Linked DNA regions of Homo sapiens. The protein of the gene in region 2 interacts with the protein of the main gene of each other region in a pairwise test. Each region holds a gene or a part of one and is shown on either strand. Other genes may lie near its edges.

The links.
Region 1: the proteins of C19orf44 (region 2) and CDC37 interact in a two-hybrid assay, tested with the Homo sapiens proteins (one large-scale study listed by BioGRID and IntAct).
Region 3: the proteins of C19orf44 (region 2) and GOLGA2 interact in binary tests that used the Homo sapiens proteins (3 or more experiments, as listed by UniProt).

What each region holds. Positions count from the first base shown.
Region 1 is NC_000019.10:10,397,043-10,400,689, forward strand, and holds part of CDC37 (hsp90 co-chaperone Cdc37), read right to left. Parts: intron 1-3,647. UniProt on the Homo sapiens protein: Co-chaperone that binds to numerous kinases and promotes their interaction with the Hsp90 complex, resulting in stabilization and promotion of their activity. Inhibits HSP90AA1 ATPase activity.
Region 2 is NC_000019.10:16,513,247-16,516,893, forward strand, and holds part of C19orf44 (uncharacterized protein C19orf44), read left to right. Parts: intron 1-1,250; coding exon 1,251-1,417; intron 1,418-3,647.
Region 3 is NC_000009.12:128,266,008-128,269,654, reverse strand, and holds part of GOLGA2 (golgin subfamily A member 2), read left to right. Parts: intron 1-1,130; coding exon 1,131-1,235; intron 1,236-1,494; coding exon 1,495-1,538; intron 1,539-1,657; coding exon 1,658-1,721; intron 1,722-2,137; coding exon 2,138-2,197; intron 2,198-2,380; coding exon 2,381-2,461; intron 2,462-3,329; coding exon 3,330-3,368; intron 3,369-3,634; coding exon 3,635-3,647. UniProt on the Homo sapiens protein: Peripheral membrane component of the cis-Golgi stack that acts as a membrane skeleton that maintains the structure of the Golgi apparatus, and as a vesicle thether that facilitates vesicle fusion to the Golgi membrane.

The DNA.
Region 1 (3,647 bases), 6.1 Mb from region 2:
CCGCTGCCCCTGTCTGGAATTCCCTGCCTCCTCAACATCAGCAACCACTAACATCATATGACAATTATTTATCACGTTTTGGGTACTGCCCCCCTCCAATGAATGAAGCCCTGCTCTCTAAATATGGGAACGTGTTCGCCATTTTGTTCCCAGAACCAGGAACGTGGCCTGGTGCAAAGCACGGGCTCAGCAAATGCTTGTTTTTTTTTTTGTTTTTATTTTGTTCAGTTTTGTTTGAACAAGGTCTTGTTGTCATGCAGACTAGAGTGCAGTGGTGTGATAATGGCTCACTGCAGCCTTGATCTCCCAGGCTCAACCTGCCTCAACCCCAAGTAGCTGGGACTACAGGTGCACACAAACCACCAAGCCTGGCTTTTTTTTTTTTTTTTTTTTTTTGAGACGGAGTCGCCCAGGCTGGAGTGCAGTGGCGTGATCTTGGCTCACTGCAACCTCTGCCTCCCGTGTTCAAGCAATTTTCCTGCCTCAGCCTCCTTAGTAGCTGGGATTACAGGCACGCGCCACCACGCCTGGGTAATTTTGTATTTTTAATAGAGACGGGGTTTCTCCATGTTGGCTGGTCTTGAACTCCTGACCTCAAGTGATCCACCCACCTTGGCCTCCCAAAGTGCTGGGATTACAGGCATGAGCCACTGCACCAGGGCCCCTTCTAGATGTTTCTTTGTTCCACCCATAACCTTGCCCCAGGATCACTGCCAAGGCCCTCTTAGCTCTGTCTCCAGCCCAGCATGCCCTCCTGAGCCCCAGCTTGGTGTCTACCTGCTTCCCGCTCACCCCAGCCCCAGATGTCACTCCCCAGGCACTCCTCTTTCTCCTTATAACAGTGCCTCATCTCCTCAGGCTCCTGGTCCCCGCCTCACTCCCTGTCTCCCTCAGACCTCCATCTGGGCCCCATCGGATTGTACAGGCCTCTCCTGAGACCCCTGCGTGGCTCCACCATCACCTCTCCTGAACCTCAGTGGAGGCTGCTCTATCCAGAGCCACTAATCAAACCCTGAAACCCTGAAACGTGCCACCACCTTCAATTGCTGACCCTCTCCAATCCAGGCACAGCTGCCACCAGGGAGGCCTGTGAAGCCCATGCATTTGACCACGTGACCAGAGTCCTCCCCACTACATCTTGGGGGGTCTGAATTCAGATGGGACTTCTGATCCTGGCATCCTGGTCCTGGGTCCCAGGCAGATACTGGCCCTCATCGTTCCCCGAAAGTACGGGCTCTGTCTTGCCTCTTGGCCTCTGCATGTGCGGTTCCCTTACCTGCTTTTGCACCCAAAACTCAGCTTCAACAGAGCCTTCCCCAAATGCTCCCTGCCTGAGGCACCACTGATCCCTAAAGGACCTCCTGTGACCATCTGACGATGTGGTGAGGGTGCTGGAGGACAGCCTTGGGGCAACGGCCCCTGGGTCCTAGCCCACAGCCACCATGTACCGGCTGGGTATCCCGGGCCATCCCCTAACCTCCTGTAACCTCAGTTTCCTCATCTGTCAAACAGTCAACAATGCTGACTGCACAAGCTCATATTGGAAGAAACTAAGGAGATGATTAGAGTAAAATGTCCCGAGCCATGTGGGCCCTCAGCACGCACCCTTCCTGTACTGGCCAGGGTCATTACCATCTGTGCAAGAGAACAATCTCTCTCTCTCTCTGGGGACCACTCTGGGGCCTCAAAAAGGAAATGTCCTTCAAATGCTTAGTTTAATTTCTGGCCCAGAGTACACGCTCAATAACTGGGAGTGGTTGTTACTACATGGTCACAGCACCCGGCTGTGCCACTGACGGGAGATGGAACTTTGGCCATGTCACTGAAACCTTTCCCAGCCTTGGTCTTCCCCTCTGTGAAATGGAGTCTCACAGGATCGCCGTGAGAACTGAATGACTAACTCTATGGAAAATGCTTCCAAAACAGCCCTCAGTAGGTGTGTCCCACTGTTACCATCTCCGTCCTTGTCACTGCCACCTGAATGGTCTGCTGACTCATTCCTGTGCCTTATCTGAGGCTGTGTCCCCAGGTTCTAAGGCAGGGCCAGGCAGAGCTGGCCCCTACTCTAATACCCCAGGGGACTGACACAGCCAGCCTGAGCCTCGGATTCCCCTATATGTATAAGGGGTCAAGAAGGCCTACGTGGTCGAGCGTGGTGGCTCACTCCTGTAATCCCAACACTTTGGGAGGCCGAAGCGGGTGGATCACCTGAGGTCAGGAGTTTGAAACCAGCCTGGCCAACATGGTGAAACCCCGTCTCTCCTAAGAACACAAAAATTAGCCAGGCGTGGTGGCAGGCGCCTGCAATCCCAGCTACTCCAGAGGCTGAGGCAGAATCGCTTGAACCCGAGGCAGAAGTTGTAGTGAGCTGAGATCGCCCCACTGCACTCCAGCCTGGGCGACAGAGCATGACCCTGTCTGAAAAAAAAAAAAAAAAAAAAAAAAAGCTATACCTCATGAGATAAACAGCAGCTGCAGGCTGGGCACAGTGACCCATGCCTATAATCCTAGCACTTTGGGAGGCCGAGGTGGGAGGATCACTTGAGCTCAGGAATTTGAGACCAGCCTAGGCAACATAGTGAGATTCCATCTCTTAAAAAAAAAAAGTTGCTGGGTGTGGTGGCTCATGCCTGTAATCCCAACACTTTGGGAGGCCAGGCGGGCAGATCATGAGGTCAGGAGTTCGGGACCAGCCTGGCCAACATGGTGAAACCCCATCTCTACTTAAAAAATACAAAAATTAGCCGGGCATGGTGGCGCGCACCTGTAGTCCCAGCTACTCGGGAGGCTGAGGCAGGAGAATTGCTTGAACCTGGGAGGTGGAGGTTACAGTGAGCCGAGATGGCACCACTGCACTCCTGTCTGGGCAACAGAGTGAGACTCCGTCTTAAAAAAAAAAAAAAAAAAAAAAAAAGCAGCTGTGGCCTCTCCAACTCCCTTTCTCCACGATGGGCCTGTGTCACCCTGGAGCCTGCCCACCACCCTGCAATCCGCTGCTGGGCTGCCACCAGTCTCCCCTGTGTCCTCTGAACAACTGCCAGGGAGGCCGCAGCTAAAAAAGGCCTCTTGGAGTTGGCGGGGGCGGCAGCCTGCCCAGCCTGGGCTTTACACCTCCTATCGGGGAGGGGCTGTAGCAGGCTGGGCAGGGGAGAAGCCACCCCAGCAAGCAGGGCCCACAGATGTCACTACCCTCCTGCCTTACAGTTAGGGAAACTGAGGCTCACAGAATCTCAATGTCATACAACTCATTAGAAGAAACCACTAACAGCAGCTGTCTCTGGGCAGGAGAGCCGGCGAGCTGGGGCTGAGAAAAGGGATTCATTTGTCCGCTTCTGGAAACTTTGAAATTTTTTTTTTTAAGAGACAAGGTCTTAGGCCAGGCTTGGTGGCTCACACCTACAATCCCAGCACTTTGTGAGGCTGAGGCAGGTGGATTGCCTGAGCTCAGCAGTTTGAGACCAGCCTGGGCAACATGGTGAAACCCTGTCTCTACCAAAAAGTACAAAAATCAACCAGGCATGGTGGTGTGTACCTGTGGTCCCAGCTACTCAGGAGGCAGAAGTAGGAGGATCACTTGAGCCCGGAAGGTGGAAGTTGCAGTGAGCTGAGATGGCGCCACTGCCATCTCAGGGTGACAAAGCAAGGCC
Region 2 (3,647 bases):
CCACAGGCACCTGCCATGAGGAGAGAAAAGGTGTGGATGCCCTTGAACCTTCTGTCTCTTGCAAAGAGACACCAATGTCACACAAAACAAGAGGGTGAAGAGTGATGCTTCTGTGCCCTGCACCCCAACAAGGCCACTTTTTTTGTTTGTTCGTTTTGAGACAGTCTCGCTCTGTTGCCCGGGCTGGAGTGCAGTGGCGCGATCTCCACTCACTGGGACCTCTGCCTCCTGGGTTCAAGCGATTCTCCTGCCTCAGCCTCCCGAGTAGCTGGGATTACAGGCACCTGCCACCACGCCCGGCTAATTTTTGTATTTTTAGTACAGACAGGGTTTCTCCATGTTGGCCAGGCTGGTCTCGAACTCCTGACCTCAAATGATCTGCCCACCTCGGTCTCCCAAAGTTCTGGGATCACAGGCCTGAGCCGCCCTGCCTGGCACAAGACCACTTTTGTTTTGTATGTTCCCCTTGGTGGCATTACATCAATAAGCCATAGTTTATTTCCCCTGAAGACATGTATTTGACTGATGCTGAGTTGCACAGCCTGGGTAGACATTCCCTTGCCTCCTGGGCTGAGTCTGTGTGGCCCTCACAAAGGCTCCAGTCCAGCCTGAGGCATGAGGGAGGGGCCCCAGCAGCCATCTTAGAGAGTTTAGTCTTTGTCGAGTCCAGTGGAGCCAATAAAGGCTTGTGATACACGTAGGGGTCCATCTGGTACCTACTATTTTTTTCCCTTTTCAATTTTTTAATTTTTTTTTTTTGAGACGGAGTCTTGCCCTGTCACCCAGGCTGGAGTGCAGTGGTGTGATCTTGGCTCACTGCAACATCTGCCTCCCAGGTTCAAGCGATTCTCCTGCCTCAGCCTCCCAAGTAGCTGGGACTACAGGTGTCTGCCACTACACCTGGCTAATTTTTTTTTTTGTTTTTTTAGTAGAGATGGGGTTTCACTATGTTGGCCAGGCTGGTCTCAAACTCCTGATCTCGAACTCCTGATCTTGTGATCCGCCTGCCTCAGCCTTCCAAAGTGCTAGGATTACAGGTGTGAGCCACTGTTGCTTAAACCCAGGAGTTCGAGGCTGCAGTGCGCTGTGATGGCACCGCTGTACTCCAGCCTGGGTGGCAGAGCGAGACCCTGTCTCCAGAAAAAAAAAAAAAGATTTCAGAGAGCAGCCTGGCACCTGAGCGGTGGGGGGGGGGCTGCAGAATTTGTGGGGCCCCAGCGAAGCCACCGAGTAACGCGGAGCTGGGTCAGCCCTGACCGCTTACAGCCCGGCCGTGCTGGCACTCCATGATGTGCTGAAGCAGCAGCTGAGCCTGACGCAGCAGTTCATCCAGGCCAGCCGGCACCTGCACGCCTCCCTCCTGCGCTCCCTGGACGCGGACTCCTTCCACTACCACACCCTGGAGGAAGCCAAAGAGGTGAGCGCAGCTCCCCATGGGCAGGGGCAGGGCAGTAGGGGAGCGGCAGCTCCCAGAGGCCGGGCCGAAGGGATATGGGCCGGGGCCTGGGCTCCAGCGCTCAGCCCAGGGCTGCAGGGATGCAGTGGGGCCATCACCTGTCCCTGTGGAGGGAGCCTCATTTCCTGCCACCCTGTGGCAAAAGCTGGTACAGGGTGGGGTGCTGAGCTCCTGCACCTTGCAGCCAGCCCCGCCTGGGCTGTGTGACCTCAGACTAAAGGGACCTACTGTTCGTGGCACTGTTTTCTCCCATGGGAGGGGTCCTGTCCCTTTCCCTGAGCCTCCTGAGACATCCCCGAGATGGGGCCAGAGGCGGCCCAGCTGTTCTCCTCAGCAATCACCCTCACCTCTTTTTTTACCCTCTAAGAATTTTTATCTGATTACCAGCCAGGTGCCGTGGCTCACACCTGGTGCTTTGGGAGGCTGTGATGGGTGGATCACTTGAGGTCAGGCGTTTGAGACCAGCCCGGCCAACGTGGTGAAGCCCCATCTCTACTAAAAATACAAAAATTAGCCAGGATGGTGACGGGCGCCTGTAGTCCCAGCTACTCAGGAGGCTGAGGCAGGAGAGTCGCTTGAACCTGGGAGGTGGAGGTTGTAGTGAGCTGAGATCGTGCCACTGCACTCCAGCTCGGGTGACGAGCAAGACTCCGTCTCAAAAAAACTTTTTAAAATCTGATTACCAAAAATTACGTGGCTGTTTTCTGAAAATCTTGTTGCAGAGATGTGTAACCTGCAAGTTCTCCTTAATTTCAGAGGTAACTATTACCAAGCTGATATATATACTCCTTCAGACTCTTGTATGAACCATAGTATGCGTATTTCTTTTTTTTAAAATTTTTTTTTGACGGAGTTTTGCTCTTGTTGCCCAGGCTGGAATGCAGTGGTGTGATCTCAGCTCACTGCAGCCTTCGCTTCCTGGGATCAAGCGATTCTTCTACCTCAGCCTCTCAAGTAGCTGGGATTACAGGTGCCTGCCACCATGCCCAGCTAATTTTTGGGATTACAGGTGCGAGCCACCATGCCTGGCCACGTATTTCTTTATAGAAATGGCATTATACTATATGCAGTCCTTTATGGTGATCTATTCATAAACTTTTTTTTTTCTTTTGAGACTGAGTTTCACTCTTGTTGCCCAGGCTGGGGTGCAATGGTGCAATCTCAGCTCACTGCAACCTCCGCCTCCTGGGTTCAAGTGATTCTCTTACCTCACCTTCCTGAGTAGCTGTGATTACAGGTGCGAACCACCATGCCCAGCTAATTTTTCATATCTTTAGTAGAGACAGGGTTTCTCCATGTTGGTCAGGCTGGTCTTGAACTCCCGACCACAGGTGATCCACCTGCCTCGGCCTCCCAAAGTGCTGGGATTATAGGCGTGAGCCACCGCCCCCTGCTTTAAACATTTTACATAACAAATTTTTCAGTGTTTATTTCTAAAAAGTGATGTTAAAGCCAGGTGTGGTGGTTCATTCCTGTAATCCCAGCACTTTGGGAAGCTGAGGCAGGGTGGGTCGCTTGAGCCCAGGAGTTCATGACCAGCCTGGGCAACATAGCAAGACTCCATCTCTATTAAAAAATACAAGAAAACTAGTTTAAGTTTAGCATAGTGGTGTGTGCCCGTAGTCCCAGCTCTCTGGGAGGCTGAGGTGGGAGGATCACTTGAGCTGGGGAGGTTGAGGCTGTAGTGAGGGAGAAAGCGGGACTCTGTCTCAAACAAACAACCATAATGCAATAATACACAAACCAAATTTACTAAGTATCAAGGAATATCCAGTGTTGAGATTTCTGCTTGTCTGATTTAAAGTTGTGTGTTTTGTTCCGATTTGGTAATTCGGATCCAAAGTCCATACTATCCGATATGTCCTTTGAGCCTCTTAATCTAGAGCAGCGACCGGTTCTCAATGCTGAGCGGTTGGGGATCCCCTGGAAGCCCTGTGAAAGCGATGCTGGGCCCGCAAGCAGGCGGGGTGGGCCTGGAGCTAGGCGTTTCTCCCACATGCCCCGGGACGCTGCTTTGGAACTGTGCCGAGTCCCCTGCATGCCAGGCCTCTCGTTTCCTTGTGGTTTATCTGCTGAAGAGGGCAGGTTGTGAGTCCCACGGGTCTCTACAATGTCAACTTTGCTCATTGCAGCCCTCTGGGGGCTTTGAACTCATGCCTCTGTTGGGCGTCCATCAGCCCATCCGATGCAG
Region 3 (3,647 bases), on a different chromosome or scaffold from region 2:
CAGATATTAGAAGATCTCTAGAACCAGAGGCTTGGGCGAAGAGTAAGGTCAGAGCCTGGAGAGAGGCTGGGTGGGGCTCTGATCAAGCAGGTAGGTCCAGTTGGGGGCAAGGGAGAGGCTCCACATGACCCCAAGTTCTGAATCCTAGGATTGTCCTCAGGTACTATTCCCAGGAAAGAGGCCCTACAACTTCCAAGTTGCCAAGAGCCACAGGGAAGATGTCTTACCTCTGTTTTCTTGGGTGGTTTCTTGGCTGGGTAGATGTTTTTGGAGGTAAGAGGTCGGGGTGGGGGTGTTGGCCATGGTTTATCCTCTTTTTACCTCCAGAGAGTTGGAGAGAGTCTTCTAGTTGGGCAGCTTTTTTTTTTTCCCCCTGAAAAGGCCTGAATCAGAAACACAGCCAGTAGGCCAAGTGCAATGGCTCACACCTGTAATCTCAACATTTTGGGAGACCAAGGTGGATCACTTGAGCCCAGGACTTTGAGACCAGCCTGGGCAAGATGGCAAGACCATGTTTCTATAGAAATTAGCTGAGCATGGTAGTGTGCACCTATAATCTCAGCTACTAGGGAGGCTGAGGTGGGAGCATTGCTTGAGCCCAGGAGGTGGAAGCTGCAGTGAACTATGATTGTGCCACTGCAGGGGAGAAGGGAAGGGAGGAAAGGAGGAGACAGGCAGATAGCTACATTGTGCATTGCCCAGACAACTACTTCCTCATCACCATCCTCTGCCCAGTAGGGGCCCAGTGAGGGTCACTCTGCAGCACAGACTGGCCTTCTGGAAGAACAGTGCCTTTCTCCTCCCTGACTTTGGCACACCTTCCTCCTGCCTGCTGTGGCTGCCACAGGTCAGAGCCTGCTGCTGTCTTTTGCTGAGCTCCAGGGAGAGCGAGGTCCTCGTGTTCATGAAGGAGGCCGTGCAGCCCCTGCTTTGAGCTTTGGCCATCTGAAATGCTGCCTAGCAGCCCAAGGCCTGGGCAACCAATCCACACCCCTGAGTGGCTCCTAGCATGTGTGACTGTCACTCTGACTGCAGCAACACCTGTCCTACCTGTTCCACACCCTTGTGTTCATAGTACTGAGGCACCTCTCCCGCATGGCCCCCTAACCCCCTGCTCTGTTCTGTGACAGACACCCAAGGACAATGCTGCTACTCTACAACCATCTGATGACACCGTGTTACCTGGCGGTGTCCCTTCCCCTGGTGCCAGTCTCACTAGCATGGCGGCATCTCAGGTTCGTGCCTCCTCCCCCTCTGCCCACTGCCCTCCTGTACCTATTATGCATTATCTTCTCCTTTCACAGGCAGCTTGTTCCCTAGGGTCAAGGGCCCTTCCTGGGGACCGGGCCGGGGGAAGGCTCAGACTGGGCTTTTTTCCTTGAGGCCTGGGGAGATTGAAGATTGTTAGAATGAGTTTGGGAGCTTGACTCACCCCATCCTGGGTGATTCTTACCAGAAATTGAATGACCATCTCACACGTTTCTTCCCAAACAGAATCATGATGCTGACAATGTCCCTAATCTCATGGATGAAACCAAGTGAGTGTCTCCTGTTGGGGCAGCAGTCTCTAGGCTGAGAGAGTCAGGGAGGCCACTGCCCATGACCTTCTTTCCCATTGAGCCACCTGCACCCCTGACCCCTGTGTCTCCATCCCTAGGACTTTCTCATCAACCGAGAGCCTGCGACAACTCTCCCAACAGCTCAATGGTCTTGTTTGTGAGGTACCTCAGGAACTGAGGCCGAGAGCGGGGTGGGGGGAAGGGAACTATGATAGAAACTGAAGCAGGGATTCACAAGAGAGAGGGAAGATCCTGGGACCAGCCAATGTGCTGGGCAATGTTAAGGAAGTCGCCTTTTCCCTGAGCCTTCTCCCTTGAAGTTGTGCACATGAAGGAGTTGGACCCCATGACTGGTTGCATCATTGTATCCTGCTGCAGAAGCACTGGATGAGAGCTGCTCGGGAGGAAAGGATGGTGGGGAAATAAGAACCATGAGAGAAGTTGGCACAAAGGGGTTACGGGACAGAGGGTCCAAGTTAGAAAAGAAAATGTTGCCAATTGCTGGGGAAGAAACGAAGTTAGAGGGCTTAGACACTGAGGGGACAGAACATCTCCATGTGCACTCTCGTCTCTTATAGTCTGCGACATGTGTCAATGGGGAGGGCCCTGCATCGTCTGCTAACCTGAAGGATCTGGAGGTAAGAGGCCCTGGGCCGTGGCCCAGTGACCCTGCAGGCCAGCCCTCCAACCTCCTCCCACAGCGGGGGCTGGGTGCCCCTCTGCCAGCTGAGACAGCCCACACACCCCCCAACCCTAATGATTGCTCTCTCTACCTCTCCCCCCAATCCTCCTCCAACTCCTCCTCTCTGCATGCGCCTCAGAGCCGGTACCAACAGCTAGCGGTAGCCCTGGACTCCAGCTATGTAACAAACAAACAACTCAATATCACGATAGAGAAATTGGTAAGAGTCCAGTGGGGTCCCCTGATTCCATGCTGCTAATCCTGGGCTCCAGTTTCCCCTTGGGACCCTGAAGAAAGGGGCAGGGGGCCCCTGGTGCCAAGGGCGAATGGGGAGCTGGGGGGCCCAGGCCTCAGCTGGAGGGACCCCAGAGCACGGAGCATGCAGCATGGCTCTTCTGTTGCTGCCCTCTTTGCCTACTCTCTCTTCTCTAGACACCCCTGCTCGAGTCCTTGCCACACACGCCCTGGGGTTGTTGCCTCTTGGGGAAGCGCTAGCCTGACTGGTTGTCAGGAGCCCTGTATTTCTGCCCTGACTCAGTCCTTAATTTGCTCTTTGATTTGGGACAAGCCACCTCTCCTCCTTGGGCTTGCATTTCCTGAGGAGGTAGAGTTAGAGAGTATCAAAGGTCTCTTAGCTCTGAGAGTCCAAGATTTAAAGGCCCATTAGAATGTAAACCTCAGGGCCAAGGGCTCCTGTCTGTCTTTTTCTGTCTGGTATCCCTGCTATTAAGAACCGTACCTGGCCTGTGTGTGCTCAGCAAATGTTTGTTGAATGATTACACCTTTCTAAATCACAAACTGGCAGAGGGTGGGCTTTTCTCACACTCCATCTCTAGAGGTTTATGTTACTGTCCTTTCAAGAGAATCGAGATTCAGACTTTCAGTTCTGTGGCTGTGGGCAAAAACCAACAAAGACACAAATCCCCTTTCCTTGAGAGCCTGAGGAGAGTTTACCAGTTCGTGTTCCCATTGGGTCTGAGAACTTTGCCTTTAAAATCCATTCCTGGCCCCTGCCTACCCGTTCCTGGTCTGGGGAATAGAGTTGAGGGGGCCACCCTCAGTCACCTTCCTTTGACTCTTCCCCACAGAAACAACAGAACCAAGAAATTACGGATCAGTTGGAAGAAGTAACGTGATTTCTTTGTTTGCTCACAACATGACTGCTGGGTTTGGGGGGCATTCAAATGTAGAGGCCTCAGTCTCGTCTCACCCACTCCCAGCCTGGGGAAGAAGGCTCACCCCCCCAGATTCCACCCCATCCCCACAGGGTCCCTGATAACCTGGTCCCATGGGTGGGCCTGTCCTGGGACATTGGTGGCATTCTGGGGGCATGTCCCTTGCTGTGCCGTCTCTGCCTCCCCCTCGTAAGAGCTCTGTCTTCCTCTTCCTATAGGAAAAGAAAGAAT